Linked DNA regions of Homo sapiens: all the other regions are linked to region 3. The links come from fine-mapping of genetic effects on gene expression. A gene starts in region 3. Each other region holds a variant in brackets. All regions are shown on one strand. Distances are from middle to middle. Region 1 overlaps NXN (nucleoredoxin). Region 2 overlaps NXN (nucleoredoxin). Region 3 holds the start of NXN (nucleoredoxin). Region 4 overlaps NXN (nucleoredoxin).

Region 1 (8,124 bases), 63 kb after region 3:
GGGCATACGGATGGCGAATGAACCTGGATGAGCGTCGAGGGTTGAGAGCCTGGGAGAACGCTGCAGAGCTGGAGTGAGCTGGTGAGGGCTGGTCACTTGGGGAGGGAGCGGAACCCTGGGAGGAGAACGCTGGAGGAATTGGGATCAGGCAGGCTCGGCATCCCCAAGGCTACATTGGCCTTGGGGCATGACAGGAGGGCCTAGGTATCCCCAGGCGCTCGGGGCTGGGAGGAGAGCCACATGGGCACCTCATCGGCCCCCTTGGCTGAATTTGAACAATCACTTGATGTTGACGTTGCCAGATTCCTCCAGGTCAAAGCGGGAGCCAGGGGCGGGGGGAGATGACAGGAGGCAGCATTGATAAGTTTGTAATGTTGGATTTCGGGGTGTAGACTGGGCGTGATGGCTCGTGCTTGTCATCCCAGCACTTTGGGCGGCTGAGATGGGCTGATCGCTTGAGCCCAGGAGTTCAAGACCAGCCTGGGCAACATGGCGAAACCTTGTCTCCACCAAAAATACAAACATTTGCACCGCGTGGTGGCTCGAAGAGAGTTGGAGGCGGAGGTCCTCACATGGAGGAGGCCGTGGAAGTGGGTAGTTGCTCTGGATGGGTGATGAAGGCACCAAGGGTGCCGGTGGGGGCTGAGGCAGAGAGAGATGGAAGGTACATTTTCCGCCATGGCCTGGGGGTTAGTGAATACCAGTCTGCAAGGTGACAAGAGGGAGGTGTAGCTATGTAGCTAGATGAGGTCGCATACCAGTGTGGTCCGCCAAGATTGAATGATGGAAGGGAGAGCGTTTCCTGGTGTTTTGTGCCGGACCGCTCTGCCCCTAGTTGTATTTTCTGGACTGCGTTCCAATATTATTTTCAGTTGTTGTTCTGGAGCCACGCACTGCCTGGTAAGGGCTGATTGGTGTTGTCTCTGTCTCCCACCTTGAACCAGAGCCCGTGTCTGAGGGCCGCGTGGGACGAATGCGGGGATTCCGAGGACGACGTAGGTTCTGTAACCCACGATACGAGGAGGTGCTGTAGAAAGCCGTTTGACTGCGTCCTCCCAAAACTGCCACTTTAATTTCTGGTTGTGCTGAGATTACAGGGCTTTTTCCTCGTGTTACAATAACACGTTTTCTAGCATCTTAAGGAATGATTGCCCTGCATTGACAGAGTATTGTAATAAAAGCTGTTTAATTGGAATAATCATTCCAGAACCTTTTTTTTGTTTTGTTTTGAGACAGAGTCTCACTCTGTCACCAGGCTGGAGTACAGTGGCACAATCTCGGCTCACTGCAACCTCTGCCTCCCTAGTTCAAGCTATTCTCCTGCTTCAGCCTCCCAAGGAACTGGGACTACAGGTGCCCGCCATGACGCCCGGCTGATTTTTGTATTTGTAGTAGAGACGGGCTTTCACCATGTTAGCCAGGATGGTCTCGATCTCCTGACCTCGTGATCCACCCTCAGCCTCCCAAAGTGCTGGGATTACAGGTGTGAGCCACCGAGCCTGGCTGAAACATTTTTTTTTTTTAAAGCAATAGGGTCTTACTCTGTTGCCCAGGCTGGAGTGCAGTGGTGCAATCATAGCTCACTGCAGCCTCAAACTCCTGGCCTCAAGTGATCCTCCCGCCTCAGCCTCCCGAGTAGCTGGGACTACAGGCGCACGCCACCTTGCCTGGCTGCAGAGACATTTTTAATGAGGAAGGAGGCTGTGGAAACGTAGTTTAACTTACTTTGTTTTCTGAGTCCTTAAATTCACCAAGGATTCAACAAACACCCGCCCCCCCACCCCCGGCCTTTTTTTTTTTTTGAGACTGAGTCTCTGTCTCCCAGGCTGGAGTGCGGTGGCGCGATCTCAGCTCACTGCAGCCTCTGCCTCCCGGGTGCAAGCGATTCTCGTGCCTCAGCCTCCTGAGTAGCTGGGATTACAGCCGCCCACCACCGCGCCTGGATAATTTTTGTATTTTTAGTAGAGACAGGTTTTCATCGTGTTGGCCAGACTGCTCTTGAACTGTTGGCCTCAGGTGATCCGCCCGCCTCGGCCTCACTTTCTGGGATTACAGGCATGAGCCACTGCGCCCGGCCTCAACCAAACCCTTTTTAAGTCAAGAAATTAAGACAAAAAGTAGCTGGAATGAAAGTGAGTGATTGACTCGGGAGCCAAATGGAAATGGGAGTCACGGCCTCCCTGAGCCCAGTTCACGAAGGAGATGAAACGCTGCGATGAAACTCGCTGATGGATCGTGCGCTCCTCCCATTTCCTTCCGACCCTCCCGCCTTTTCCTCCAAACCGAACGTTACAAAGGAAAATAATCTTAATCAAGACCAGACCCCTTTGGGCCCAGGGTTCTGGGGCTGTTTCTGGCACAACGGCCAGGCCCAGCACAGCCTGGTTTGTGATTGTTTGATTACAGGAGGAAAATGCTGTGTTGTTTTGGGGGAGGTGATATTGAGTGTTCTCGTGTTTCTTTTGTCTGTTTTTGGCCCATCTTCTTAGTAGGATCATGTTATGAGTTATTTTCTGGTTTAGACACACAACTTTTAAAACTGAAACTGAGATTTCCTTTATGCTGCAAATACGGAGTGAGTTTTTGTGATGTGCCGGGCCCTGCCGTGAGCCATGTGTCTTCCATAAAGTACGAGCTCAGTAAACATTTTATTATTATCCATTAGGGGTTCTTGTCAACAAAACTGAATACAGACCACATTCTTCTTCACCAGTACGCAGTCCCCTTTGTTTGGAACGGGAGTCCCCCCTCTCCTGTCGCTTATCCCCTTTCCCATCCGCCCTTGTCCCCACCTCTGCGAGGCCTTCCTGGGGAGCGAGAGCCACGCCCGCCTGTTGTGCCAGTACGCGCCCCTTGTAGGGCTGGAACCTGGGGTGTCCGTCTAGGAGGTCGGATTGGGTAGGGAAGCTCGCCTGCAGCGGGTGGCCTACATTGGGTTGAGATGGTGACGTGCGTCTGAGCCACGTCCTTGTGGGAGAGCTGGGAATCGAGCCTGTAGACACCAGTGCTAAGTTCAAAGAGTGGGTGGAGATAAAAAATGGGCGTAGGGTGGGACAGCAGGTCCAGAAGGAAGAGGAGGAGCTGGTGTGGTTTCCACAGACGACAGTGTGGGGCTGCTCTGTGAGTTTAGGTTCATGAGTAAAGATGTGAGCGGCGGCTCCCGCCTGTTCTTTCAGAGGCCCAGCACTTTCAGAGGCCAAGGCAGGCGGATCACGAGGTCAAGAGATTGAGACCAGCCTGGCCAACATGGTGAAACCCCGTCTCTACTAAAAATACAAAAAATTAGCTGGGCATGGTGGCGGGCGCCTGTAGTCCCAGCTGCTCGGGAGGCTGAGGCAGGAGAATCGCTTGAACCCGCGAGGCGGAGGCCACGGCGAGCCGAGGTCGCGCCATTGCACTCCAGCCTGGGCTACAGAAAAAAAAAAAAAAGATGTGAGCTCAGGCGTGGAACACCTCATTCCTTGGTTCACTTAGGAACAGGGAATCTTGTTGGAGGCAAAGCGGATGTTTGATTTGTAGCTTCAGCATGTATAACAGAACAGGACACACAGGGAATGTCTGATAATGTGATTAATGAATGAAGATAAAGACCCACCAAAAATACCCACCTTCAAGGTGGTTTGAAAATTTACAACGAAGAGGTTAGGGTGGTAACTAACCTAGAGGCCTGTTGGTTGCTGTAATTTTTTTTTAGAGATGAAGTTTCTCTCTGTTGCCCAGGCCGGAGTGCAATGGCATAACCTCAGCTCACTGCAACCTCCACCTCCCGGGTTCAAGTGATTCTCCTGCCTCAGCCCCCGAAGTGGCTGGGATTACAGATGTCCGCCACCACACCTGGCTAGTTTTTTGTATTTTTAGTGGAGACCTCAGGTGATCCACCTGCCTCGGCCTCCAAAAGTGCTGGGATTACGGGCGTGAGCCACCGTGCCCGGCCAGCTGCTGTAATTTGTGAGCTTAATGTTAAAATCCTGAGTGCTTTGCAGGGATCCCTGGGATCCCCAAACACTTAAAACTGATTCCTTGGATATTTACAGTAGCT[A/G]CTGCAGCTGGGGTGCAATTTCACATTTTACCAGGAGGGACTGTCTGAAATCTCCTTCATTTTTAAGTTTTGGAATGTGTTTATATTTATTTTCCTTTTTTTTAGTTTGGTAACTTTGAAATGTCATACGTTAATTTTACGTAAAACAAGGGATTTGACTTTGACTCATTTCCAAAAGGCCCCTTGCAGGGAAAATTGTCTTTTAAATTGTTTTAAATAATCTCATTTTCAGCAGGAAGAAGTAGAAAGGATAAAATGGATCCTGCACCACGGGAACCTCACAGCACCTCACTCCTTGTGGCTTTTCCTGTTTGATACTCTGCTTTCTGAAAGATGCAATTTTCTGCCTCCATTTCTGTTGCCGACGTGCCAGGATTTCTAGCAAAGTGGGCCTAGAGTTTTGCTGGAGGTTACTTTTCCTTGGAAGCAATTCAAATACAATCATCATTCTGTTTCTCCCTTTTCATTCGACATTTGAGTAGAACAATGGCTTGGCAGCCAGACAGGCGCTCTTAAGAGCTTCAGTGTTTTTATCTTTGCCTTTTGAGAAGTGCCTTTACAAAATGTGGTTTAAAATTGAGCCTACAAACAAAAACACAGAACCGATTGCTTGGAGACCAAAACTCTAGGGACAAGGACAAAAGAACTGGGAGAGGGGGAGCAGCTGGAAGTTCCAGCTCTGACACCATAAGTGGCCGCCCATTTTAGGGGAAGTTTCGGCTCTGACACCATAAGTGGCCGCCCATTTTAGGGGAAGTTTCACCTGGAAGCCCCAGCTCTGGCCCCATAAGTGGTCAGGCATTTTAGTGTTGCACTAACTGGTCTCTGCCTTCTTGGTTTATTGCCAAGTTTCCAGCCCTGGGGTATCCTTGTTATTTACTTTCCTCCTGCACCAAAGCTCGGAAGCGTTACACTATGTACTCATTCATTCTCACTTTTACTCCTTTCTTAGAAATAATTTCCTAGAGTCCAGGTGTGGTGTCTTATATCTGTAATCCCAGCACTTTGGGAGGCTGAGGCAGGTTGATTGCCTGAGCCCAAGAGTTTGAGACCAGTCTGGGCAACATGGCAAAACCCAGTCTTTACAAAAAAATACAAAAATTAGCTGGGTGTGATGGCACACTCCCGTAGTCCCAGCTACTTGGGAGGCGGAGGCAGGAGGATTGTCTGAGCCCAGGAGGTGGAGGTTGCAGTGAGCCGAGATGACTCCAGCCTGGGCGACAGAGTGAGACTCTATCTCAGAAAGAAAGAGAGAAAGAATTCCTAGAGGTCATGCTAATCATAATCCCACTTATTCTCAACTATAAAATCCTCAACTGGCCGGGTGCAGTGGCTCACGCCTGTAATCCCAGCACTTTTGGAGGCTGAGGTGGACCTATCACGAGGTCAGAAGTTCGAGGCCAGCCTGGCCAATATGGTGAAACCCCATTTCTACTAAAAATACAAAAAATGAGCTTGGCGTTGTGGCGGGTGCCTGTATTCCCAGCTATTTGGGAGGCTGAGGCAGGAGAATCTCTTGAACCTGGGAGGCAGAAGTTGGAGTGAGCCGAGATCGCACCACTGCACTCCAGCCTGGCGAGCGAGACTTTGTCTAAAAAAAAAAATCAACTCTGAAATTTTTCCAGTACAAGTGTCTGCGATTTCACCCCCTTTAATATTTTAGGAAAACTCATCTCACTTGCTTGCTTTATTTGCCTGTGCTGTTGGTTCCACGCACTCATCAGCTCCTCCAGGGGAAGCCCTGGTTCCCCACATCCAGCTCCGCCTCCTCTACACCCAACAGTCTTGCTTCCCACATCACGGTACGCTCCCTGTTAACTCGCTTGCTGAGTTAATGACCTCACTCAATGGACTGTGGACTCTTTGAAGGTCAGAAGCGAGTCTCTGCTCCTCATCTTTGTCTCCGCCTGGTTCGATGCTCAGCACAAGGTAGCATTTCATACATGTTTGTTGAATTGTGTATATTCCTGTCTCCTCTAGGAACCTTGCTTGCGCTACCAATTACAGACCTCGGTGTTTGCCTTTGACCTTGCCTCTACTGTCTCATTGCATACTTCTCGCCTTAAAAAGAATCTTCCTTCTGGCCGGGCGTGGTAGCTTGTGCCTGTAATACCAGCACTTTGGGAGGCTGTGGCGGGTGGATCACCTGAGGTCAGGAGTTTGAGACCAGCCTGGCCAACACGGTAAAACCCTATTTCTACTAAAAATACAAAAATTAGCTGGGCGTGGTGGCGGGTGCCTGTAATCCCAGCACTTTGGGAGGCTGAGGTAGGCGAGTCACCTGAGGTCAGGAGTGCGAGACCAGCCTGGCCAACGTGGCGAAACCCCATCTCTATTAAAAATACAAAAATTAGCTGGGCGTGGTGGCGGGCGCCTGTAATCCCAGCACTTTGGGAGGCTGAGGTAGGTGAGTCACTTGAGGTTGGGAGTTCGAGAGCAGCCTGGCCAATGTGGCGAAACCCTGTCTCTATTAAAAATACAAAAATTAGCTGGGTGTGGTGGTGGGTGTCTGGAGTCCCAGCTACCCGGGAGGCTGAGGCTGGAGAATCACTTGAACTCAGGAGCCGGAGGTTGCAGTAGGCCAAGATTGTGCCACTGCACTCCAGTCTGGGCGACAGGGCGAGACTCTGTCTCAAAAATAAAAATAAAAATAAATAATAAAATAAAAATCTTCCGCGAGTTTGGGAGGACACGCCGTTATAATGAATGTCCTTGCACTTAAGTAAGTGAGTTTATGCCAGTGTAGATGGAAAGGGCAATTGTTTACACATTTTTTTTCTGCTTCATTTTTGTCTGCTCTTTTACTACAAGGATAAGAAAGAGCAGGTGCCAGGAGAGAAAAGTCATCTGAGAAGGGTCCCGGTCTCTGCATTGCCTGGGGACGTGGGGGTAGGTGGAGAACCTGCCTCTTTATCGGTTCCCGGTCTCTGCATTGCCTGGGGACGTGGGGGTAGGTGGAGAACCTGCCTCCTTATCCTCTTTTCCTTTGGTCTCTGTTGTGCCACGATGTCTCTGGGAAACTGACCGACTCTCCTTTCTCAGCCTGTTGCTCTCTGTCTGTCGTGTTGAGGAGTCTCTGCTGTGGGCAGGGGCCGACATCTTCATCTGTGATCACTTCTGTGTTGAAACAGCTAAGCCAGCGCTAGAGGCAAAAAGGGTTCCCAGACTCTGGAAAACTGACAAGCGAATGGACTTTTCAGACTCCAGGAGAAAATGGGCCATCCTGGGCTGTGGGGGTGCTCTGTGGATGAGTTCTGTCATTTGGGAGCTGGCAGTGGTTTGGTGATCAACTGTTGGCTTTTCCAGATTTTACAAAATCGGGAAGGATTTTTGGTGACTCATGAATTTTCTGTTCAATTTTACTTCTCCTAATAAGAAGTTAGCCTCTATTTATGTTCAGAGAATTAATCTAGATTTTATTGGTGACTATAAAAGAGATGACTGTAATATAAAACTTCTATATGGTCCAAAATACCAGAAACCAGATCAAATGATAAACCCTAGGGTGAGAAAAGATATTTCCAACGTATATGACAGAGAAAAGTGCTATTTTTCTTTTCTTTCTTTCTTTTTTCCGTCCTTTCCTTTCTCTTTTCTCCTTTCCTTGTTTCACTCTGTCGCCCAGGCTGGAGTGCGGTGGTGCAATCTTGGCTCACTGCAAGCTCCATCTCCCGGGTTCAAGCGATTCTCCTGCCTCAGCCTCCCGAGTAGCTGGGATTACAGACACGTACCACCACGCCCGGCTAATTTTTCGTATTTTTAGTAGAGACGGGGTTTCACCATGTTGGCCAGGCTGGTCTCGAACTCCTGACCTCAGGTGATCCGCCCGCATCGGCCTCCCAAATGTAATCTTCATGCTGGGATTACAGGTGTGAGCCACTGCCCACTGGCCTGTTTTTTTTCTTAATGCATAAAGAGCTTTTAAAATCAATTTGGGTAAAGAATTTGAACAGAGAAAGACACATAAACATGAAAAGATGCCTGGTTCTGTTTGCAATTAAAGAAGTACAACTTTTGAAATATGTGATTATTAAACTGGCAAAAGGAACATTTGATAACATACAGTGTTGGCAAGGATGTAGACG
Region 2 (8,124 bases), 83 kb after region 3:
CCATTTCTCCATCTATAAAATGCTGTCTCTCTTCATGAGCTTTTTGGCTATATCTTCAGAAAGTTTGTGTTTTTTTTTCCTTTTTTTGTTTTGAGACGGAGTTTCGGTCTTGTTGCCCAGGCTGGAGTGCAATGGCGCAATCTTGGCTCACCACAACCTCTGCCCCCCCGGGTTCAAGCGATTCTCCTGCCTCAGCCTCCTAAGTAGCTGGGATTTCAGGCATGCGCCACCACACCCCGCTAATTTTGTATTTTTAGTAGAGACAGGGTTTCTCCATGTTGGTCAGGTTGGTCTCAAACTCCTGACCTCAGGAGATCCGCCTGCCTCGGCCTCCCAACGTGCTGGGATTACGGGCATGAGCCACCACGCCCGGCCCTCAGAAAAGTTTTAGTGTTAAACTCTATAGCTTGAGGATATCATTTACTTTAACAAAAGCCCTTTGATTTCCTTTGTGAAAATAATTAATTTAGAGACAGGGTCTCACTCTGTCACTCAGGCTGGGGTGCAACGACATGATCATAGCTCACTGCAGCCTCGAACTCCTGGGCTCAGGCTATCCTCCTGCCTCATCCTCCCTAGTAGCTGGGACTACAGGCGTGCACCACCGCCCCCAGCTTGTAAAATTTATCAACTGGGCAAGACCCTCCCTGCAGGAAGCTTTTTTTACTGTCTCCCAGGAAAAGAAACCCTGTACCTAAATCTCCGTAACAGAGAGGAGAGAAAGGAGGAAAGTGCGGAATCCGTGGTTTTGTTTTTTAAGGCTCAGCGCTAATTCCTGACGATATAATCATGAGTGAATCAGTCTTTGCCCTCAAGGAGCTAAATCTCCTTGCGGGAAAGAGAAGCAAGCTGTATCTTCTTTGCAGCTCTCAGTAATACCTGCCATTTTCTTGTTTATTGTTGTTTATTGATCGTCCTCCCTCACGAGAATATGAGCTCAGGAGAGCGGGCATCCAGGTGTCTCTCTCAGGGTCTTATTTTTTGTACCCAGCACGTCAATATTTGTTGAATTAATGGATGGATAGATGGAGTATTAAGCAAAGTAAGGAGACAGTTATAGTACTATTAATATAAAAGGTGCTGTAAGAAAAGCATGCACAGGCCGGGGTGCGGTGGCTCACGCCTGTAATCCCAGCACTTTGGGAGGCCGAGGCGGGTGGATCACCTGAGGTCAGGAGTTCAAGACGAGCCTGACCAACATGGTGAAACCGCGTCTCTACTAAAAATACAAAAATTAGCTGTGCATGGTGGTGGGTGCCTGTAATCCCAGCTACTCGGGAGGCTGAGGCAGGAGAATCACTTGAACCCGGGAGGCAGAGGTTGCAGTGAGCCAAGATCGTGCCACTGCACTCCAGCCTGGGCGACAGAGCAAGGCTCTGTCTCAAAAAAAAAGAAAAAAAAAAAAAGCATGCACAGAGGCAGAATCCCAGCCCTGTCCTTCCTTCTTTGCAGGGAGGGGATAGGAAGAAATGACTTTCAGAGTAGTTTTTTTGTTTTGTTTTTGTTTTTTTGAGACAGTCTGTTTTGTCACCCAGGCTGGAGTGCAGTGGTGCCCTCATGGCTCACTGCAGCCTCGACCTCCCAGTTTCAAGCAGTCCTCCCACCTCAGCTTGGAACTATAGGTGTGCACTACCGTCCTGGCTAATTTTTGTATTTTTTGTAAAGATGAAATTTCTCCATCTTACCCAGCCTGGTCTTGAACTCCTGGCCTGAAGTGGTCCTCCCACCTTAGCCTCCCAAAGTGCTGGGATTACAGGTGTGAGACATTGCGCCTGGCCTCAGAGTAGTTTCTCAGAGGAGATGGCGTCCGGACGAGTTCCTGACGGCAGAGTAAGAGTTAGTAGGTAAAGAAGATCAAAGCTGTTCCAGGCAGGGTGCTGGGATTACAGGGGTGAGACATTACACCTGGCCTCAGAGTAGTTTCTCAGAGGAGGTGGCGTCCGGACGAGCTCCAGATGGCAGAGTGGGAATTAGTAGGTAAAGATGGGATCAAAGGTGTTCCAGGCAGGGGAGCTGAAGAGGGGTGTGTCCCAGGAGAGCAGAGTGCATGGAACTAGGAAAGTGGTTCTCAACTGGGGCAGTTTTTCCCCCAGGGTTGTTTGTCCAGTCTTGGGGGGATGGTAAAGACCAGGAGTGCTGCTGGACATCCTGGAATGCACAGACCAGCCTCGACCAGGGAGAAACCATCCAGCCGCCAAGTGCTGAGGTTGAGAAACCCTGAGCCCCATGAAGACAGGAACAAAGATGAATGGCTGTGGGGAAGAAAGGCACAGCAGTAGGTGGGTAGTTACTTGAAAATTAAGCATTGCTTGACCAGCTCAATCCATGGAGAACTTTGAAGTGCACAATATCAAGTTATCCTTAAAATAATCTTAACTGGCCAGCAGCAGGGGTTCACACCTGTCATCCCAGCACTTCGGGAGGCCGAGGTGGGCGGATCACCTGAGGTGAGGAGTTCGAGACCAGCCTGGCCAACACGGTGAAACCCCATCTCTACTAAGAAAAAAATAGAAAAAGTAGCCATGCGTGGTGGCGGGCACCTGTAGTCCCAGCTACTCGGGAGGCTGAGGCAGGAGAACTGCTTGAACCTTGGAGGCCGAGGTTGCAGTGAGCCGAGATCGTGCCACTGCACTCCAGCCTGGGTGACAGAGTGAGACTCCATCTCGAAAAAAGAATAAAAGAAAAACAAATGCTGGACCGAGAATTCATTTAACACAGAGTTGACAGCACACTGAGGAAATCTTTGCGGATTGCCCTAGGACGGGGCATTGTGAAGCTAATAGGCAGTACTGTCTAATTTCTCAATTTCCTTTCAATAATAGCGGAACATGCCGGACGTGAATGAGGCCGCCCGGCATTTTCCTTCCCTTATTCAATTTACGTGCTGCCTTTTGACATCTGACTGATGTGGTAAGGATGCACCCCACCCTAGAACGTGCTTTCAAGAAGAAATTGAGTTTCTCTTAATCATGAGATCCATCTTGCTAATTGATTGTCCTGTAAACAGTGTGGGGCAGCCCATGCTGGCTTTGTTTCAGTGACGCTGGGGAAAAGCCACACGTCTCTGCTGTCATTTTGATGTCCACGCAGCTGCCTTTCCCATCTGGGTCACTGGAGGGTGGGAACAGCCCTTAACCTCTGCCTCCCTTTCCCAGGACAGAGCATTCGCCTCCCTGCAAGCCTGGCTCGGACTTGCCTGGGACCTGCCAGGAGCTGAACGTAGTTTTCTTTCTCCCATGGGAAATAATTTTCTTGGGCGCGGTGGCCGTGGGTTACCAGTCCCTGGCTGTCAAAGCTCACGCGTGTGTGACAGTGACGCTGTTGTTAGGCACGCCGGAGTTTCCATTACGGAGTCCGTGTATCTGCCGCGGGGACTTTCCTAGGAGAGGCGTCACTGCAACAGGCCTAGGAGGGGACTGGCTTGGGAAAAAAAGAAGAATATTGTGTGTGATATGCAGGAACTGAGAAATAGCGTGAGTTTGTTGAGGGGCCGGGGGCGGGTGGTCAGGACCGCGTGGTCCATTTTAGCATCTTCGAGATCTGCAGAGGTTCAAGTGTCTATTGTAGAGAATTTAGGGAAGCTTTGAAGTCGAGGAGAAGGTTCTATTACCAGAAACAACTCTCTGTAAAAACAGATGTCATCTGTCAATTCCACAAAAACTTCC[T/C]TGGGCCGGGGTGACTAAGATGAGAAGTGGGAGAACTGGATAGTTTAATAAATGTTTATATTTTACTTTAAAGCGAAGTTGAAACACGAAGACGATAGTTAACGTCTGGTAAGTTTATACGGTGTGCGAGGCAACAGGGAGAGGTACGGGAATAGTTCTACTTCCTTGTTTTTTATTCTTGTGTTTTAGACACAGGGTCTGCTGTGTTGCCCAGGCTGGAGTGCCGTGGCACGATCACAGCTCACTGTAATCTCAAACTCCTGTGCTCAAATAATCCACCTCAGCCTCCCGAGTAGTTAGGACTGCAGGCACACGCCACCATGCCTTGCTTACTTAATTTTTTTTTTTTTTTTGAGATGGAGTTTTGCTTTTGTTGCCCAGGCTGGAGTGCAATGGCTCGATCTCGGCTCACTGCAACCTCTGCCTCCTGGGTTCAAGTGATTCTCCTGCCTCAGCCTCCCGAGTAGCTGGGATTACAGGCATGCGCCACCACGCCCGGCTAATTTTTTGTATTTTTAGTAGGGACAGGGTTTCTCCATGTTGTCAGGCTGGTCTCGAACTCCCGACCTCAGGTGATCCGCCTGCCTCAGCCTCCCAAAGTACTGGGATTACAGGCATAAGCCACCATGCCCAGCCTATTTAATTTTTTTGTAGAGATAGTCTTGCTCTGTTGCCCAGGCTGGTCTTGAACTCTTGGCCTCAAACAATCCTCCCCACCTCAGCCTCCCAAAGCATTGGGATTACAGGTGTGAGCCACTGCCCCCAGCCCATCAACAGTTTGTAAAGCCCATTTTACTAAAAGATTCACCTTGGAAGATACTACATTGTTGAGAAGAATTAATGATGTTGGGAAAAATTAGTTTTTTTGTTTGTTTGTTTGTTTTTGAGACAAACAAAACCCAGGCTGGAGTGCAGTGGTGCGATCTCGGCTCACTGCAAGCTCCGCCTCTCAGGTTCACGCCATTCCCCTGCCTCAGCCTCCCGAGTAGCTGGGACTACAGGTGCCCACCACCACGCCTGGCTAATTTTTTTTTTTTGTATTTTAAGTAGAGACGGGGTTTCACCGTGTTAGCCAGGATGGTCTTGATCTCCTGACCCTGTGATCCGCCCACCTCGACCTCCCAAAGTGCTGGGATTAGAGGCGTGAGCCACTGCGCCCGGCCACATTGGGTCTTTTTAAACCAGAAAGTATTATTGTAGCAGCTTTAGAAGGTTGCTGAATTCTGTTTCTCCCCATACCCAGCTGTGTCATGGCAGCAGTCCCCATGGTGGTTTATGTTTGATCATCTCTCATTTTCTCTCATTTTTTTGCTTCTTTGGGTACCCTCTTTTCTTCCTCTCTCCATTAGAGAAGATGAACTATGAAGGGAAGGGGTGGGCCAGGCGCGGTGGCTCATGCCTGTCATCCCAGCACTTTGGGAGGCTGGGGCAGGCAGATCACCTGAGGTCAGGAGTTCAAGACTAGCCTGGCCAACATGGTGAAGCCCCGTCTCTACTAAAAATACAAAAATTAGCTGGGCGTGGTGGTGGGTGCCTGTAATCCCAGCTACTCGGGAGGCTGAGGCAGGAGAATCACTTGAACCCAGGAGGCGGAGGTTGCAGTGAGCCGAGATGGTGCCACTGCACTCCAGCCTGGGCGACGGAGTGAGATTTAGTCTCAAAAAAAAAAAAAAAAAAAAAAAAAAAAAAAAAAAAAAAAGGAAAGGGTGAAAGGAAAGGATGAGAGAGAAAGGCAATCAGGGAGAGCCAGGATTTCAGGGAATCATGAAGGCGGCCAGCGGGGACCTGGGTGTGCCCACGTTTCAGCCATGCAAATGCCTGAAGCCAAGTGGATTTAAAGTTGAGGCAGTCACATCTCAATTATGTTTTCAGATGGAAGGGGGTATTTTAGCAGCCAGTTTAGCAAAACTGGGGACCGTCTTCTTGGGGCGCCTCCGTCATGTCTCCGCCCGTCCCTGCGGACACCAGTGGCAGAGCTGCAGAGGCTGCCCCCGGCAGGACCCCCAGGTTCTGGGCATTGAGATGCTTCCTCTGGCTTCCAGGGTGCTGAGATGCTTCCTCTGGCTTCCAGGGCGTTTGAGATGCTTCCTCTGGCTTCCAGGGCGTTTGAGATGCTTCCTCTGGCTTCCAGGGCGTTTGAGATGCTTCCTCTGGCTTCCAGGGCGTTTGAGATGCTTCCTCTGGCTTCCAGGGCGTTTGAGATGCTTCCTCTGGCTTCCAGGGCGTTTGAGATGCTTCCTCTGGCTTCCAGGGCGTTTGAGATGCTTCCTCTGGCTTCCAGGGCGTTTGAGATGCTTCCTCTGGCTTCCAGGGCGTTTGAGATGCTTCCTCTGGCTTCCAGGGCGTTTGAGATGCTTCCTCTGGCTTCCAGGGCGTTTGAGATGCTTCCTCTGGCTTCCAGGGCGTTTGAGATGCTTCCTCTGGCTTCCAGGGCGTTTGAGATGCTTCCTCTGGCTTCCAGGGCGTTTGAGATGCTTCCTCTGGCTTCCAGGGCGTTTGAGATGCTTCCTCTGGCTTCCAGGGCGTTTGAGATGCTTCCTCTGGCTTCCAGGGCGTTTGAGATGCTTCCTCTGGCTTCCAGGGAGTTGAGATGCTTCCTCTGGCTTCCAGGGAGTTGAGATGCTTCCTCTGGCTTCCAGGGAGTTGAGATGCTTCCTCTGGCTTCCAGGGAGTTGAGATGCTTCCTCTGGCTTCCAGGGAGTTGAGATGCTTCCTCTGGCTTCCGGGGGTTGAGATGCTTCCTCTGGCTTCCAGGGAGTTGAGTTGCTTCCTCTGGCTTCCAGGGAGTTGAGATGCTTCCTCTGGCTTCCGGGGGTTGAGATGCTTCCTCTGGCTTCCAGGGAGTTGAGATGCTTCCTCTGGCTTCCAGGGAGTTGAGATGCTTCCTCTGGCTTCCAGGGAGTTGAGATGCTTCCTCTGGCTTCCAGGGAGTTGAGATGCTTCCTCTGGCTTCCAGGGGTTGAGATGCTTCCTCTGGCTTCCAGGGCATTGAGATGCTTCCTCTGGCTTCCAGGGAGTTGAGATGCTTCCTCTGGCTTCCAGGGGTTGAGATGCTTCCTCTGGCTTCCAGGGCATTGAGATGCTTCCTCTGGCTTCCAGGGAGTTGAGATGCTTCCTCTGGCTTCCGGAGGTTGAGATGCTTCCTCTGGCTTCCAGGCGTTGAGATGCTTCCTCTGGCCTTTTTTGAAGGCCAAGGCTTCTTTCCATTTCTTATGTCACGCTACTGAGCGATGGAGATAATTTTTGAAAAAGGGAAATCCAAGGAGGGCATTCTCACCAGAGTGAATATAGCAACCAAGGTGCTGTCTTTTAAGCTGGGACCGGAGGATTAGGCCTCTGTCTCCAGCCTCTGCCTAGGGTTTCCTGAGACTGGGCTCCATGCTTTCTCCCCTAAAAAGATTATCCCCCAGAGGAGTGTCCACAACCCATGCGCACTCAGAAAGCTCACCTTTTCCAGTCTCTGTCCAGGAACGTGGCCTGATACAACTGCACTGATTGACTCGTGGAAGTAACGAGAGCATTGCCCTGCTGGAGACTTGGCCTGCGTAGGCGTGTTCTCCCATCCGCATCTGCCAAGTGGAACAGCTTTGCCCTTTAGGGACATAGGCAAACGTCTGAAGACTTTAAATTTTTAATTGATAGACTTTGTTTCATAGAACAGTTTTAGGTTTTCAGAAAAACTGAGCAGAAAGTACAGAGTTCACAGGTACCCCTCCCTTGCCCTCCAGGTATTCCTGCTGTCATTACCATCTTGCATTGGTGCGCTACATTTGTTACAACTGAGGGGCTGGTATGGGTACATTGTTACTATCTGAAGTTCACAGCTTACCTTAGGGTTTATTGTTTGTGTTGGACACTGTTGGTTCTGACGAATGCATAATGAATGACATGCATCCACCAGGTTGGGATCATACAGAATTGTTTCACTGGTCTCAAAGTCTCCTGGGCTTCTGGAACCATTTTCGATTGTCACTAAGCGGGCATTACTGGCATTTCCTGGGACAGCGATGAACATTCTACAATGTGCGGAACAGCACCCCCCCACACACCCCACCCCGCCCCGCCCCTTCCCAGCAAAGTGTCAGCAGTGCTGAGACTGCGAGACCTGCTATGCAGACACTGACTTGCCAGGTGCGTTTGTGAGTGTTTTGTGGGTGGGGATGAGCTTGTGAGGCTCCAGTGCTGGAAACCTGGTGTTTGGATGAGGGGTGGCCTGGCTGTGCGGGGGCAGAAGAGAGGCACCAGGTGGATTTGGAGAGTCCTGGGAAGAGGGTCAGCTGTAAGTGAGAGGCAGCATTCCAGCCATAATCCCTACACACATTCCTGTAACTGTCACCGTCTTAAATTCAGAACATGAGGTCTGAGTCCAATTAAAATGCCCTAAGTTCTAATTGTTGGGCTGTGCATGGTGGGGTTAGCTTAGTTCCCTGTTGGGTTGTGCATGGTGGGGTTAGCTTAG
Region 3 (8,124 bases):
AAAAGATGTCTAGTAACTATGTGTGTGTGTGTGTGTGTGTGTGTGTGTGTGTATATATATACTTTTTTTTTTTTTTTGAGATGGAGTCTCTCCCTGTCGCCCAGGCTGGAGTGCAGTGGTGCGATCTCGGCTCACTGCAAACTCCGCCTCCCGGGTTCATGCCATTCTCCTGCCTCAGCCTCCCGAGTAGCTGGGACTACAGGTGCCCGCCACCTCGCCCGGCTAATTTTTTGTATTTTTAGTAGAGACGGGGTTTCACTGTGTTAGCCAGGATGGTCTCAATCTCCTGATCTCATGATCTGCCCGCCTCGGCCTCCCAAAGTATTGGGATTACAGGTGTGAGCCACCTCACCTGGCCTAGTAACTTAATATATATGATATGAGTAGCTTTAAATGTTTTCACCAAGGCCGGGTGGTGGCTCATGCCTGTAATCCCAGAACTTTGGGAGGCTGAGGCGGGTGGATCACTTGAGGCCAGGAGTTTGAGACCAGCCTGGCCAGTATGGTGAAAACCCCGTCTCTATTAAAGATACAAAAAATTGGCCAGGCTTGGTGGCGGACGCCTGTAATCCCAGCTACTCCAGAGGCTGAGGCAGAGAATTGCTTAAACCTGGAGGGGCGGAGCTTGCAGTGAGCCGAGATCGCGCCACTGCACTCCAGCTTGGGCAACAGAGCAAGACTCTGTTGCAAAAAACAAACAAACAAAACAAAACAAAAAAATTAGTGCATGCCAGTAATCCCAGCTATTTGGGAGGTGGTGCATGCCTGTAATCCCAGCTACTCGAGAGGCTGAGGCAGGAGAATCACTTGAATCTGGTAGGCAGAGGTTGCAGGAGCTGAGATCGCACCACTGCACTCCAGCCTGGGCAACAGAGTGAGACTCTGTCTGTAGGGACCAGCCCCACAGGGTCAGTGGGTCTCTCCCCGTGTGCGGAGACGAGAGAGTGTAGAAATAAAGACACAAGACAAAGAGATAAAAGGCAGCTGGGCCTGGGGAACCACTACCACCAAGTCGCGGAGACCGGTAGTGGTCCCAAATGCCAGGCTGCACTGATATTTATTGGATACAAGACAAAGGGGCAGGATAAGGAGAGTGAGCCATCTCCAATGATAGGTAAGGTCATGTGGGTCACGTGTCCACTGGACAGGGGGCCCTTCCCTGCCTGGCAGCCGAGGCAGAGAGAGAGAGGAGACAAAGAGAGAAACAGCTTCCACCATTATTAGAGACTTTTAGTACTTTCACTAATTTGCTACTGCTATCTAGAAGGCAGAGCCAGGTGTACAGAATGGAACATGAAGGCGGACTAGGAGCGTGACCACTGAAGCACAGCATCACAGGGAGACAGTTAGGCCTCCGGATAATTGTGGGCGAACCTGCAGTCAGGCCCTCCACAAGAGGTGGAGGAGTAGAGTCTTCTCTAAACTCCCCCCGGGGAAAGGGAGACTCCCTTTCCCGGTCTGCTAAGTAGCGGGTGTTTTTCCTTGACACTTACGCTACCGCTACACCACAGTCCGCCTGGCCACGGGTGTCTTCCCAGACGCTGGTGTTACCGCTAGACCAAGGAGCCCTCTGGTAGCCCTGTCTGGGCATAACAGAAGGCTCGCACTCTTGTCTTCTGGTCACTCCTCACTATGTCCCCTCAGCTCCTATCTCTGTATGGCCTGGTTTTCCCTAGATTATGATTATAGAGCGAGGATCATTATAATATGGGAATAAAGAGTAATTGCTACAAACTAATGATTAATGATATTCATATATAAGCCTATCTAAGATCTATATCTGGTATAACTATTCTTATTTTATATTTTATTACACTGGAACGGCTTGTGTCCTCGGTCTCTTGCCTCAGCGCCTGGGTGGCCTGCCGCCCACACTGTCTCAAAATAAATAAATAAATAAATAAATAAATAAATAAAGTTTTCACTAAAAAGTGATGCTTTCTGTGTGTGTTTTATAATATTGTCCCTACAGTGGCACAGACTTTCAGCATGAAAGTCTCCTGAGAATTAAGGTGGAATTCGACTTTGCAGTAGGATTCTAGGGTGTTCGAAGGCGGTCCTCCATCTAAGATCTTACCTGTGTCATTAGCAATACCAGCAGGTGACTAAGGAAGTGGATATAACTTGTAGAGACGCCAGTCCACTTTCCGCTCCCATCTCCACCTCTCCCAATTGTTTTATATGGTAACATTTCACCAAGCTGGAACCCTGCACCATTCCTTATTCTACCCTAGAAAAACGGAGAACCTTCGATGTGAACACTTACGTTTTGTGCCAAAAGCTTGAAGTTCTATTCTGAGGTTTAAATTAGCTCCCGCAAAGCGTCCTATCATTTGTGTATGTGGAAAGCTGCTGTAAAATAAAAGCATTGTGCCTGGTGTCCCGGCAGTGTCTTTTCACAAATGGAGTTTGGTCGGCCTCATTTTTCACTCTTTCCATTAGGTGGCGATGGATGCACAGGAAATATCCTCCGAAGCGGCGGTGGAAGCTCTGAGAGGGGCGGGTTTTCAGCTTTTATTTTTTTGCTTTCGCTGAGTCGTCAGTAGCTGATCCACACCGGCGGCCTGTTACTGTGGCTGGGCCCGGATCTGCACCTGCTTCGTGCACCAGTGGGTTGGGTTGGGGGGAGGCGCTGCGTGGCCAGAGTACTCGCCACGGACCACCTGTTTTTTTGTTTTTTTTGAGACGGAGTCTTGCTCTGTTGCCCAGGCTGGAGTGCAATGGAGCGATCTCGGCTCACTGCAGCCTCCGTCTCCCGGCTTCACGCCATTCTCCTACCTCAGCCTCCTGAGTTGCTCGGATTACAGGTGCCTGCCACTACACCCCGCTAATTTTTGTATTTTTAGTAGAGGCGGGGGGGGGGTGTCACCATATTGGCCAGGCTGGTCTCGAACTCCTGACCTTGTGATCCACCCACCTCGGCCTCCCAAAGTGCTGGGAATTCAGGCGTGAGCCACCGCGCCCGGCCCAGACCACCTGTTTAATCCAGCTTCTCCCTAAGCATTGGGGAGCATCCTGCCAGCTGGTAGGAAAAAAAAAATCTCTAGAAATGTTCTCAACTATCCATAGACTTGACATGAGGATGGAGCGGATTCAGGAGCGCGGCCAGCATTGGTCTGGAGGCCCCGCGGCGTCCTTTGCATCCATTTGTGGGGCTGGAAGACAGATTCGCTGGGGGGAGAGGCCCCGGCGACCCCTGGACGGAAATCCCACACTGAGACCTGGCACCCTAACCAGACCCCACCAGAAGCTGCGAGGGCGTCCTCGGCCCCCTTAGAACAGCTTGGAACACACAGAGGAGTCAGTGTCCAGCCAGGCCCGGCCTGATGCAGTGAGGACGGCGGGTCCTATAAGCATCTCAGGGTCAGTGGGGCCCGGAGCGGCCTAAGGGTCAGGCTTCGTGCAGGGAGAGGAGGAGGGAAAGGCCGGGGAGGAACAGGAAGAGGGTGAAGAGCTCCGCGGGGAGGGGGCGGGATCCCTGGAGGTCTGGAGGGAATTTAGAACTGGGGAGGAGAGAAAATGCGGGCCGGGCTGCAGCCCGGGAAAGCGCCGGCTCAGCGGGCCCTTCTCCTTTCTTCACTTCGGCCGTGGGCTTTCCAGGGAGAGTGCGGCGTTTCGGGTCCGGCTTCTCGCCCAAGCAGTCACCCCGCGCACCGCGGCCGGCAGCTGCGGACCCCGCCTGGGCGGAGAGCTCTGGCCACCGCCGGCCGCAAACGGGGCGTGGCGAGGGCGGAGGGGGCGTGGCGAGGGCGGGCGGAGGGGCGTGGCGAGGGCAGCCGAAGGGGCGTGGCGCGGGCCGCGGAGGGGGCGTGGCAGGGCGGGGGAAGGGGCGTGGCGCGGGCAGGCGGAGGGGGCGTGGCGTGGGCGGCCCTACTGGGCCGGGCTCTGCTCTCCCCAGCGCCTGCCGCCGACGCCGCCGCCTCCTCCCGCCGCGCGGACCGTGGAGCGGGGTCGCAGCCGCCTGCCCGCCCTGCGGTGGGCCAGGATGTCGGGCTTCCTGGAGGAGCTGCTCGGCGAGAAGCTGGTGACGGGCGGCGGCGAGGAGGTGGACGTGCACTCGCTGGGCGCCCGCGGCATCTCGCTGCTGGGTCTCTACTTCGGCTGCAGCCTCAGCGCCCCCTGCGCGCAGCTCAGCGCCAGCCTGGCCGCCTTCTACGGGCGCCTGCGGGGGGACGCGGCGGCCGGGCCGGGGCCGGGAGCGGGGGCCGGGGCGGCGGCGGAGCCCGAGCCGCGGCGGCGCCTGGAGATCGTCTTCGTGTCCTCGGACCAGGACCAGCGGCAGTGGCAGGACTTCGTGCGGGACATGCCGTGGCTGGCGCTGCCCTACAAGGAGAAGCACAGGAAGGTGAGCGGCGCGGGCCTCGCCGGCCCCTGCCCGCCCCCCACGCCCGTTACCCCTGCCCGCCCCCCACGCCCGTTACCCCTGCCCTCCGCCAACCCCGTTGTCCCCCTGCCCGCCCTCCACCCCCCGACCCCTGCCCCCAGTCCCCCGCCCCCCGACCCACTGTCCTCTCCCCGCCCCCCACCCCGCCGTCCCCGCCTCTGCCCCCCCCCCTTCCGCGCTGTGCCCGCACCCTCATCCCAGGACCCCTCTTTGGTTCGAGTGCTGCGCTGCGCCCGCCCTGGAAAGTTGGACCCCCCTCGGCCCCCGGGATCCCGGCTCGAGCCCCTCCGTCCGCACACGCTGGGAGCCTCGGGTGGGGGCGGCTGCGCTCGGGGATCCCGGTTCCGCGACCCCTTCACCCGCGAGCAGAGGCGCCAGGCCCTTCCTGCCTCCGCCGCCGACCCCCGCGGATTCCCACAGTGGGGAGGGGAGGGGAGGGGAGGGCGCACGCCCCCCGCCCGTGGCGCCCAAACCAGCGCGTTTCCTTTCTTTCCGGGAGAAACCTGCCTTCCCGGAGCCCCTTCCCCGGGGACCGGGGACCTGGGGGCCGAGGCCGAGGTCAGGAGAGGCGGCCGGTGACCGTGGCCGTGGCTGTGGCCGAGAAGGGCGCTCACGGCTCCGTCTCCCGCCCCCGCCTCCCCCGCCCCAGGCTGAGTTCGCGGCCACCGGGGAGCTTTGCATTGTCTGGCCGTCCAGCCTCCTCCCCAGACGCCTCCCGGGCGCGGGAACAGCCCGGGCTGTGCAGAGCTCAGCTGCGTGGTGGCCCCTGTGGTCCCGGGGTCTTCGAGTTAAGGGCTGAGCTGACCCCATCGATGCACATTGACTGGAAGAAGGAGGATTTGGGGAAATGGATACTTTGCTGTCAACTTCTCGTGTCTCCCAGTTTGCTGCCGAGTTGAGTTTGGGTTTCTGAGTGTGTCCCTTGGGTGAGGATGTCTGTCTCTGTGATAATAAAGCACATCCAGGACATTTTGTAATGAATGGAGTCAGAAAAAGTTTTGGAGCGCTGTTGCTTCGTGAGTGTATATGATGCAACGTGTGAATCCAGCCCCTTTCCCTTTTTGAGGAAAGCCTGTTTCTGGAGTGGACAGAAGGGCTATTCTGGGGGCGTTTAGTTTCCTCTGGGGAGCATGGCGAGGCGTGCCACGTGTTCCTTTTATATGTGCAGAATCTTGTTGAGAAGCATGATTTAGATTTACTGGGAGCAAAAGGCTTACACTGTGACCCCAAATGTCTTGAGTAAATCATCCATCCCGAAGCAGTGGGAGGTAGAGATTCGAGATTTAAAGTATGAAATACAGTTGATCCGATGCAGTTTGTAAATTTCATATTGGGAAAACATAGGTTCACTAACCACTCAGAGGCAAGAGTTGGCATTTTTACTGCTTTTTAGGTTATTTTGCCCATTTTGATTGACATGCTTGATATAGTATGAATATGCATGGCCAGTACTTTTTGATTCAAAATACGAGAATCCTTTGTTTTCCTTGGTGGTGGTTTTTGTGATACGTTCGTGGAGAAATAATGTTCAGAAAGGGATTTGCCAAAAAACATTTTCATTGTTACGGCAAGTTTCTGTTGTAGACTAAAGTCTACTTAAAATAATGTCCTTATCCGGCAATACAAATGATTTCTAGCTTTTGAAAACATAGAATTATGGTAAAATGTTACAGGCTTAACAGCCTATTGTTGTGTTTTTTACTGAAGAGGAAATACATTTTTTGGATAGTAAAAATATGGAGCAAACAGATGTTTTGCAAATGCTTAGAGCTTTTTCCGAAAAAGGAGAATATTTGATAGGACATGGGCCATGGCTGGCTCTCTATACCCTGGACAGGCTCTTTGCATGACAAAAAGTATTCTGCGGCCCTAGCCTGGACCTGCTGATTCCTCCATGATGAGAACCTGGATGACACAGGGCAGACTCTCATTTGAAAATACCGTTGAGAGTGCTGGACGTGCCCAAACCCTGGTGCGTTAGCATCTTAAACATTTTATTTTTTGGCCCAGAGTTTTTCTGACTCACATCCTATACTTTATTCTCTAAAACCAGTCCAGTTTTCAAGGAGGTAGTTTCTTTCCTTGGTCGTGAACAAACCACTCAAGATCTTTCTCGGGGATATATACCAGGTAAAAAGACTCCAGCTGTCCTTCTTATGGAACACATACTCTTGGAAATTACAAAAGCTACGTGCTGATTTTAAAAGGAATTATTGCCGGGTGCGGTGGCTCATGCCTGTTATCCCAGCACTTTGGAAGGCTGAGGTGGGCGGATCACCTGAGGTCGGGAGTTCCAGACCAGCCTGACCAACATGGAGAAACCCCGTCTCTACTAAAAATACAAAATTAGCCAGACCTGGTGGCGCATGCCTCTAGTCCCAGCTACTAGGGAGGCTGAGGCAGGAGAATCGCTTGAACCTGGGAGGCGGAGGTTGCGGTGAGCCGAGATCGCACCATTGCACCCCAGTCTGGGCAACAAGAGCGAAACTCTGTCTCAAAAAAAAAAAAAAAGGAATTATTTTCCCCCTTGAAACCAAAGAGATGTGGAACAAATGCCTTTTCTGTAACTGAGTTTTTGTCTCATTTGAAGTTAGGGTGCTTAGAAGCCCGTGAGCTAATGATGCTAATTTCCCCATCAGAACAAGTGAAGAGCCGGAGTTCTCCCAGCTGAGGGCACTGGATGGGTGAACACGTCTTGTGGATGGACTCTATCCGTGTCATTTCGCCAATGATAAAAATAACTCTAGAGAAGGGAATTTTGTTTTACACTGAAGGGAAACCAGAGTTCCAGATTGCTAATTTTTTTTAAATTCTCATTAACATTTGTTCTTTAAGCCCATGCGTATACTTCTTCCCATTGGGATAACAAAGGGTATGGTTCTAATTAGTTATTGGCTGGCATTTCTCTAAAGAAAATTGAAAAATTATGGTGGGGAAAGAAAATGCTGTGTGGTATTTCTTTTTTTCTTTTATTAATTTCTCCTTTATATAGTTAAAAAAAACCTGGGGATGACCGTATATGTTAAGCCTGCATTTTGCCTGGTTCCTCTCACCTTGACAGGAACTGTGAGAAAACACCAAAAAAAAAAAGGACAAAAATGTAAAAAAACATTCTTTATACAAAATTGTCCTGTTTCTGCCTGTTGTCATGGTAGGTACAAAAGTAATTGAAGCTTAATTTTTTTGGCTTCCAAAACACATATTATTTCAGCTTCCAAAACACACATTATTATATAGCTGTGCATAAATTGTAATTAGATGGTAATAGAACTTTGAGAGCATTTATAACAATTTCATCAGCAAATCTATAATCCTGAAGTTAAGGCAGTTAGACTTGTTTTAATAAGTAGGTTGGTAGATGATTTTCACATTTCTAGAGAGAAGGAATGTGATCGATAGTCAGGAGGTGGTGAAATTTGGACTTTGGGGATTTGGTCTTCCCTTTGGATTAGTATGTTACTCACTCGTCAAGACTGGAGAGGTCCGTCTCCGGGATCCACTTCAGCCTCATAGAAGTGAGCACTCTTTTGGTGTTAAAGTCGCAGAGCTCAACTTTGTCTGGGCTGGATGCCTGATCAAAAACATATGGTCAGTGTGGGTGCACTGACATCCAAGGGTGCAGACCACTGGCTTCCTCTGGACAGTTTTGTGAGGCTCTGGTGTGGCCCCAGGACTTCCTGCATGACAAAGGGGAAGAGAAAGTCTGCAGAGTCAGGGGACCCTGGTCCAGTATCCCTGGT
Region 4 (8,124 bases), 100 kb after region 3:
GGAGAGGAGACCAGAGGGTCCCCTCCAGAGTCATCTCTCTTGGGAGGAGCTTTGGCTTCTTAGCCTGGCATGTTTTTGGCCAGCTTCTTTCTTTCCTTAGCCTGAGGTCATGGAGGTGATGTAGGCGGGGTTTGGAGCTGTGGATGGAAATTTGAGGCCTGTGCTGGTTCAACTCCAAGAACAAAGACTACTTTGACAACAGCCAGTGAGCAGCTTCTGCTGGGAGTTCTGGGCGGGGGGCAGGGGTGGGAGGAAGAGAGGCCTCTGTGAACAGGGTGTTTCCATGTCTCAGAAACAGATTCAGTAAGAGACAGTCAGCATCGTCTTCCCCCAGCCTTTCCCTTACTGGCCTGATTGACACCGTCGCTGTCTGAGTTGTGGAGAGAGAAGGAATGGGCAGGAGAGATAGGAAACAAGGCCCTGGTGTGTGTTTTTTTCTTTCCATTTAAAAATAGGAAGTTGGCCAGGTGTAGCCTTCCCCAAGTAGCTAGGACTCGAGGTGCACGCCACTACACACAGCCAAGTTTTATTTTTATCTTTTAGTGGAGACGGGGGCTCACGCCTGTAATCCCAATGCTTTAGGAGGCCAAGATGAACAGATCACCTGAGGTCAGGAGTTCCAGACCAGCCTGGCCAACATGGTGAAACCCTGTGTCTACTAAAATTAGCTGGGCGTGGTGGCGGGCGCCTGTAATTCCAGCTACTAGGGAAGCTGAGGCAAGAGAATCGCTTGAACCCGGGAGACAGAGGTTGCAGCAAGCCAAGATCGCGCCACTGCACTCCAGCCTGGGCGACAGAGCAAGACAACGTCTCAAAAACAAAACAAAGAGGCCGGGTGCGGTGGCTAACGCCTATAATCCCAGCACTTTGGGAGGCCAAGGCAGGCAGATCACGAGGTCAGGAGATCGAGACCATCCTGGCTAACACGGTGAAACCCTGTCTCTACTAAAAATACAAAAAATTAGCCGGGCATGGTGGTGGGCGCCTGAAGTCCCAGTTACATGGGAGGCTGAGGCAGGAGAATGGCGTGAACCCGGGAGGCGGAGCTTGCAGTGAGCCGAGATTGCGCCACTGCACTCCAGCCTGGGTGACAGAGCGAGACTCCATCTCAAAACAAAACAAAACAAAACAAACAAAAGAAACCCCTGCAATTGAGGCAGTTGGGGCAGAGACGGGGGAGGGCTCCGCCTCATTCAGGAGCTGTCTAGGAAGTGACTGAGCAGAAATGAGGAAGAGAGAAGCATGGGGAAGGACTGCCAGGTTTCTGGTTTGGGGACACTGGGTGGAGGGTAGTTGGTTCCATTCATGGAGACAGGGAACCATGGCAGGGAAAGGCAGGGAGGGAGGGAGGGGAGGTGGTCACTTGTGGGAAGGTGGCCGTGCTCAGGAGGCAGCACCCTGTGCCCACGCTGGAATTCTCAGTTACCTGGCTCTAGATGAGATGAAGACAAATTATTTTTTTCTCCTTCTTGTTGGTATGAGTTCTTTTTTTAGGTTTAATTTAACACAATAAAATTCATGGTTCTTAAGGACCCAGCTCAGTGTGTTTGAACAGCTGTTATACCGATATGAACAATTATCCAAACAAGACCAAGAACATTTCCATCTCCCTGCACAGTCCCCTGCTGAGCCTCTCTGGTGACTCCCCCTCCCATCCGTCGCTTTGGTTTTCTGTCACTGTAATTTAGTTTTGCCTGTAGACCGTCATGGAAATGGAATCGTACAGTCAGTGTTATTTTGTGTCGGGCTTCATTTGCTCAGCATGATTGTGAGGTTTATCCTTGTTTTTGTATACATCAGTTTGTTCCTTCTTATTGCTGAGAAGTGTCCCATTGGACGAGCATCTTGTCACAGTGTATCCATTCTTCCAATGATGGATGTATGTGAGTTGTTGTCAGTTTGGGGTGGGGAAGGCTGTTATAAACATTTTTATGGACTTAAAAAAATTATCTTGGGTAAATACTGATGAGTAGGAATCCTGAGCGGTAGAATTCTGAGTCGATTATCAGGTAAATGAACATTTACCTTCATAAGATGGACCAAACGGTTCTTCAAAGTGGTTGTACTGACCAGGCATGGCGGCTCACGCCTGTAATCCCAGCACTTTGGGAGGCCAAGGCAGGCAGATTTCTTGAGCCCGGGAGTTTGAGACTAGCCTGAGCAACATGGCGAAACCCCGTCTCAATGGAAAATTTTCGAGTGTGGTGGTACGCGTTTCTAATCCCAGCTACCCGGGAAGCTGGAGGATCACTTGAGTCTGGGGTGCTGCGGCGAGCTGAGATCGCACCACTGCACTCCAGCCTGGGTAACAGTGAGATCCTGTCTCAAACAACAACAAAGTGTTTGCACCATTTATGTCCCCGGCAGCGGAGTGTGAGACTCGCACTTGCTCCACGTCCTCACCCGGGTTTGATACTGTGGGTGTGTTTTACTTTTGCTATTCTAGTCAGTGTGAAATCATTTTAATTTGCATTTCCTTGATGACACCTTTGCATATTCTTACTGGCTGTCCACCTATCTACTTTCTGGACGTGTCTGTTCATATCTGCTTGTTGAGAGTGTGCACTCCCAGAGCCTGGGCCACGGCTCAGCTACCTGCCGTAGATGGGGCAGGAGGGAAGGAGACGTTTGCAGAGATTTGAACCACAGGAACCAGTCAGCCCCTTGGAGCCCTGGCCCAGGCTGTGGGATTTTCGGAGGAGGCCTTCCATTTTCATCTGTCCTGTTATCAAACCAACTGCATTACTTAGTGTCTGCTTGGAAGTATCTGTCCTTCGCAGTCAGCTTACTCTTTTGGCCAAAAGGAAGCTCTGCTCCTAGATATGGATAAGGAATTTGACAGATCTCCAGCCCTGCCCCCTTAGGAGAAGGCCAGCCCCTCTGCTTCTTCCCCTGTGAGTGGACGTCCTTGGATGCATTAGCTCAGGCGAACTTGGAAGATTCTGTGGGTTTTGTGTGGCCTATTTTGAGTCTCATTGTTTGGCTTTAATCAGAAAAATAAACACTTATTTTTAATTTTCTCCCTGGCCTGGCTGAGCTAGGTTCAAACGATCTTTTTTAACTTGACCACATGTGAATGACCGGAAATGATGTCCTGTTGGGGAAATGGGTCATTTCCAAGATTTTCTCTCCAGGAAAAGTGTAACTTATTAGTTTCCTAAGAAAGGCTCTAACAGGCCACAAAGAAGTTCTTATTAAGACGTTTTCTCCTTTTATGTGGTCCTAATCACAGCCTTATCACAAACCCCAGCCCTGGTTGTTAATCCAAGGTATTTAGTTCTTGTATTTTATATACAAGGAAATAAAGAGACGCCTCCCTCACTCCTCCGCCCCCGGAAATAAAGAGACGCCTCCCTCATTCCTCCGTCCCCAGGAATGATTCGCCCAAGGGTGGGTGTTGTCTCCGGGGACCAGGATCAGGAATTACGCCCTGAATAAGGATAAAGACCTTTTTTCCCTTCACTGAAACAATCATTTTAAAAAATTTGCTGTGATCTCACTTTTTTATTTTAAATTCCTTTAATGAAACCTCACCCTCAAACTTGATACATCAGAAGATTTGCTTGGACTAAAAGTGGAATTTCCATCTTAACCACATGGCTCCGAGGTTCTGCTCTCAGGATGAATTGGGCTCCATGTCATTTTGTTTGTCACTTTCTTCTCGGACCAGCGCAGTGGCTTCACCACAGTGGGCACTGTGGTTGGATTCCGTACCTGTGAGAGAAGTTTCTAGAATCCTTTGGCTTGAAATACACATACTTGGCCACATTCTTTCTTCTGAACCGTCTTCTGTTGCCGCCCCCTGCCGGAGGCTAGAAAGAGACACCTGCAGAAAAGCTCCTCCCACCAGCTCTCCTCCCAAGATGCAGAAAGGTGACGCCCGCCAAACCCCAGCGGGTTCCCAAGAGGCCTTTGTGTTGGACGCCTCCTGCTT[C/A]TCAGTCAATGAGTCGTGTCCTTTCCCTGCTTGCCAGAAACCTTTAGCTCCACGGGTTTAAAACCAGACTCGTGGCCGGGCGCGGTGGCTCATGCCTGTAGTCCCAGCACTTTGGGAGGCCGAGGCGGGTGGATCATTTGAGGTCAGGAGTTCAAGACCAGCCTGGCCAACTTGGTGAGACCCCGTCTCTACTAAAAATTCAAAAATTAGCCTGGCATGGTGGGCGCCTGTAATCTGAGCTACTTGGGAGGCTGAGGCGGGAGAATCGCTTGAACCTGGGAGACGGAGGCTATAGTGAGCTGAGATCGTGCCACTGCACTCCAGACTGGGTGACAGAGTGAGACTCTGTCTCAAAAAAAAAAAACAAAAAACCAAAAACCAAAAACCAAACCAAAACAAAAAAAACCCAGATTCCTTTCCCTGCTCTTCACTAGTTTTTCTTCCGCTTTGTTCTCTCCTTCTCCTTCCCTCTCTGTCTACTTGTTGTTTTTTTTGAGACAGAGTTTCTCTCTTGTTGCCCAGGCTGGAGTGCAATGGCGCGATCTTGGCTCACTAAAACCTCTGCCTCCCGGGTTCAAGTGATTCTCCTGCCTCAGCCTCCCGAGTAGCTGGGATTAGAGGCGCCTGCCACCACACCTGGCTAGTTTTTGTATTTTTAGTAGAGAGAGGGTTTCGCCATGTTGGTCAGGCTGGTCTTGAACTCCTGACCTCAGGTGATCCACCCACCTCAGCCTCCCAAAGTGCTGGGATTACAGGCGTGAGCCACCGCACCTGGCCTGTCTACGCATTCTTTCATTAATTTGTTCTTTAAACACATATTAGAGCTTTTAACTGGCTCTGCGTGTTTTTTTAGGCTCTGGTTATGAATAGGGTCTCACTGACGCATCTACCCAAGCTACAGGCCTTGACATTCTCATTTCCCCCCATTCACTGGGTTCAATCAGGTTGGGGCACTATTGTTTCACTAGTCCCTTAATGAGTCCACCAACTTCCAGTCTCACCCTGTCTACACAGCTCCCAGAACAACCTGGCTACAGTACCAGTTGTTCACGTCACTGCCCTATGGGCCAGCCCTCATTACGGGTGGATCCAACCCAAACTCCCTGGCGTGGACTTCAAGGGCACCCCCTCCCCTGCCCCCAAACCCCACCTTCAAGGGCACCCCCTCCCCTGCCCCCACACCCCACCTTCAAGGTCCCCCCACCCCCGCCCGCAAACCCCTCCTTCAAGGGCACCCCCTCCCCCACCCCCAAACCCCACCTTCAAGGGCAACCCCTGCCCCGCCCCGAAACCGCACCTGGCCTTCTAGCATCCTCACCTTTGCACACTCTGCTCAGCCACACTGGTCGACCCCCAGGGTCCCCAGACACATCGCCCATTGCCGTACCTTGGAACCTTTGAGCATGATGGCCCCTGCTCCTGGGATTCCCTCCGCTTCTTCTCTCTCCGATGAGGTTGTGTACTAATGTCAGCTGTACACGTTGTCTTTTCAGCATGTTACCTCCTCTCAGAAGCCTGCCCCCACGCTGTGCAATGGTCGCTGTGCAGATCTCTGTTACGGCGTCATTGCCTGCATTCTACTTAGCTCTCGTCTGTCTCCCCTCCAGACTGTGCCCCCAGGGCTTCCAGGTCTAGCCTCATTTCTAATAGTTTGTTGCCACGATGTCACGAATTAGAGCCCTGTCTGTTAGCCCACAGGGCTCCAGCCTCACCCTCTCCCACAGCTCCCGTGGCCCTCCTAGCAGCCTTCAGAGCTTCATGGTTCACAGTCTGGAAAAACGTGTGCTGAGCTCTGCCTGCCTCTTGCTGTTTCTTGGATGCCTCGCCCTATCCCACTCCTGGCCTGCCTGGTGAAAACCGGTTCATTCTTCACAGAGCAGCTCAGACGCTACGGCCTTTCCTCTTCAGTCGCTCTAACTCACAAGGTTAGATGGTAAAAATAACGAGTATTTTGTAAAGCACTGAGCGTGTGCCCCAGACATTGTTCTAAGCATCTTCCCCGATTTCCTCTATGTGCCAGTAGTATCGCGCTTTTCCTGTATCCTAATAGTTTATGTACGCGTCCGTCTTCCGTATGGGGCTGGGCCTTCCATAAAGGAAAGAAAGGCTCGTGTATCAATTATCTTTCTGTTCCCAGCCTTTAGCACAGGGCTTCACACGTAGAAGGAATCCAGTAGTGGCTGGTAAATGCAGCTGTTTGAAAAACACAGTCGCGGCCGGGCGCGGTGGCTCACGCCTGTAATTCCAGCACTTTGGGAGGCTGAGGCAGGTGGATCACGAGGTCAGGAGATCGAGACCATCCTGGCCAACATGGTGAAACCCCGCCTGTACTAAAAATACAAAAAATTAGCCGGGCTTGGTGGCGGGCGCCAGTAGTCTCAGCTACCAGGAGGCTGAGGCAGGAGAATGGCATCAACCTGGGAGGCGGAGCTTGCAGTGAGCCGAGATCATGCCACTGCACTCCAGCCTGGGCGACAGAGTGAGACTCCGTCTCCAAAAAAAAACAACACCGTCGCTGTTCCCATAGTTGTTTAGTACGTTTGTTTAATATATTAAGAATTAGTTTTTTTGTTTGTTTTCGAGACAGAGTTTCACTCTGTCACCCAGGCTGGAGTGCAGTGGTGCAATCTCAGCTCACTGCAACCTCTGCCTACTGGGTTTAAGTGATTCTCCTGCCTCAGCCTCCCGAGTTCACACCATTCTCCTGCCTCAGCTTCCTGAGTAGCTCGGATTACAGGCGACCGCCACCATACCCGGCTAATTTTTTGTGTTTTTAGTAGAGACGGGGTTTCACTGTGTTGGCCAGGCTGGTCTCGAACTCCCGACCTCAGGTGATCCCCCCGCCCCCGCAGCCTCCCAAAGTGCTGGGATTCCAGGCGTGAGCCCCCGCGCCCGGCCAAGAGTTAATTTTGATGACATAGAATGTGCTGGGAGCTGGTGCCCCAAAGGGAACCACAAGGAGTTTCCCGTATAAATGAGGAATGAAGATGGTATTCTAGTGTGAAAGTAATTATCAGCGAACGACACTAACAGCGCTGTTGAGCTCCCCGCCCAGTGAGACTGATTCCTGGGCTTAAGAGAGAATCTCAGAGTACATAACTCTTACTTCCTACTCTCCAGGTGCTTTCTTCATTGATGGGGAGACGTACATGAAACACGCTTAGAGCAAAGGACGCCTAGCGTGTTCTAAATGACCACAATAGGGGATGTGGTCATGAGCCGGATTGGGAGTCCTGTACGTCGTAGCCTGTGTTGACTTCCTTGAGCACCGTTGTTCTTAAGTCCCTCTGTCACCTGAAATTTCAATAGCTTTTTTGACAACATGTGAGATTGAGTGTCTTAGTATTCACTTTGGGAGCCTGCCTTTTTTTCTGGGCACCTGCATTTCCTTTCTTTTCTTTTCTTTTCTTCTCTTCTCTTCTCCTTTCTTTCTTTCTTTCTCTTTTCTTTTCTTTCTTTTCTTTTTTTTCTTTCTTTTCTGATGGATTCTTACTGTGTCGCCCAGGCTGGAGTGCAGTGGCACGGTCTTGGCACGCTGCAACCTCCACCCCCCCAGGTTCAAGCGATTCTCCAGCCTCAGCCTCCCAGGTACCTGGGATTACAGGTGCACGCCACCACGCCCGGCTAATTTTATATTTTTAGTAGAGACGGGGTTTCACCCTGATAGCCAGGATGGTCTTGATCTCCTGACCTCATGACCCGCCCACCTTGGCTTCCCAAAGTGCTGGGATCACAGGCATGAGCCACTGTGCCCGGCCTAAAAAGCTTTTGAAAGTAGCCAACACCTGTACTCCCAGCACTTTGGGAGGCCGGGGCAGGAGGATAGCTTGAAGCCAGGAGCTTGAGACCCCCTGAGCAACAAAATGAGACCGGGTTCTACAATTTTTTTTTTTTTTTTAATTTACCAGGCATGGTCACATGTGCCTGTAATCCCAGCTACTTGGGAGGCTGAGGTGGTAGGATCACTTGAGCCCAGGGAGTTGGAGGCTGCAGTGAGCTATGATTGCACCACCGTACTCCAGCCTGGGCAACAGAGCAGAATCTTAAAACAAAAACAAAAACACCACAACCAAAACAACAAAAAAACCCTATTTCATTTCACACTAGTCTGATTCGATCTTCTGCTCTTAAGTGTGTAGTGAGGCAAATTAAGACTTTTGAGATAAGAGACCCAGGTTTGAATTCTCTCT

What was found. PIP is the estimated chance that this variant, and not a neighbour inherited with it, causes the effect.
Region 1: its variant is fine-mapped to the expression of NXN in whole blood (INTERVAL, PIP above 0.99).
Region 2: its variant is fine-mapped to the expression of NXN in atrial appendage (GTEx, PIP above 0.99).
Region 4: its variant is fine-mapped to the expression of NXN in pancreas (GTEx, PIP 0.96).

The regions. Positions count from the first base shown.
Region 1 is chr17:912,467-920,590 of GRCh38, reverse strand. The region is part of intron 1 of NXN (nucleoredoxin); the gene reads left to right. Among named protein-coding and RNA genes, the nearest start is that of NXN, 63 kb to the left of the region's middle. RefSeq lists an enhancer at 1,545-2,062. The variant A/G (reference allele first, on the strand shown) is at 4,040.
Region 2 is chr17:892,235-900,358 of GRCh38, reverse strand. All of the region lies in intron 1 of NXN (nucleoredoxin), which reads left to right. Among named protein-coding and RNA genes, the nearest start is that of NXN, 83 kb to the left of the region's middle. RefSeq lists enhancers at 193-694, 1,198-1,838, 1,839-2,480, 2,390-3,589. The variant T/C (reference allele first, on the strand shown) is at 3,666.
Region 3 is chr17:975,540-983,663 of GRCh38, reverse strand. It overlaps NXN (nucleoredoxin), which reads left to right and starts at 3,888. Exons shown (of 8, transcript NM_022463.5): 1 at 3,888-4,345. The coding sequence starts at 3,986. RefSeq lists enhancers at 2,321-2,615, 4,040-4,975.
Region 4 is chr17:875,470-883,593 of GRCh38, reverse strand. The region is part of intron 1 of NXN (nucleoredoxin); the gene reads left to right. Among named protein-coding and RNA genes, the nearest start is that of MRM3, 97 kb to the right of the region's middle. The variant C/A (reference allele first, on the strand shown) is at 3,935.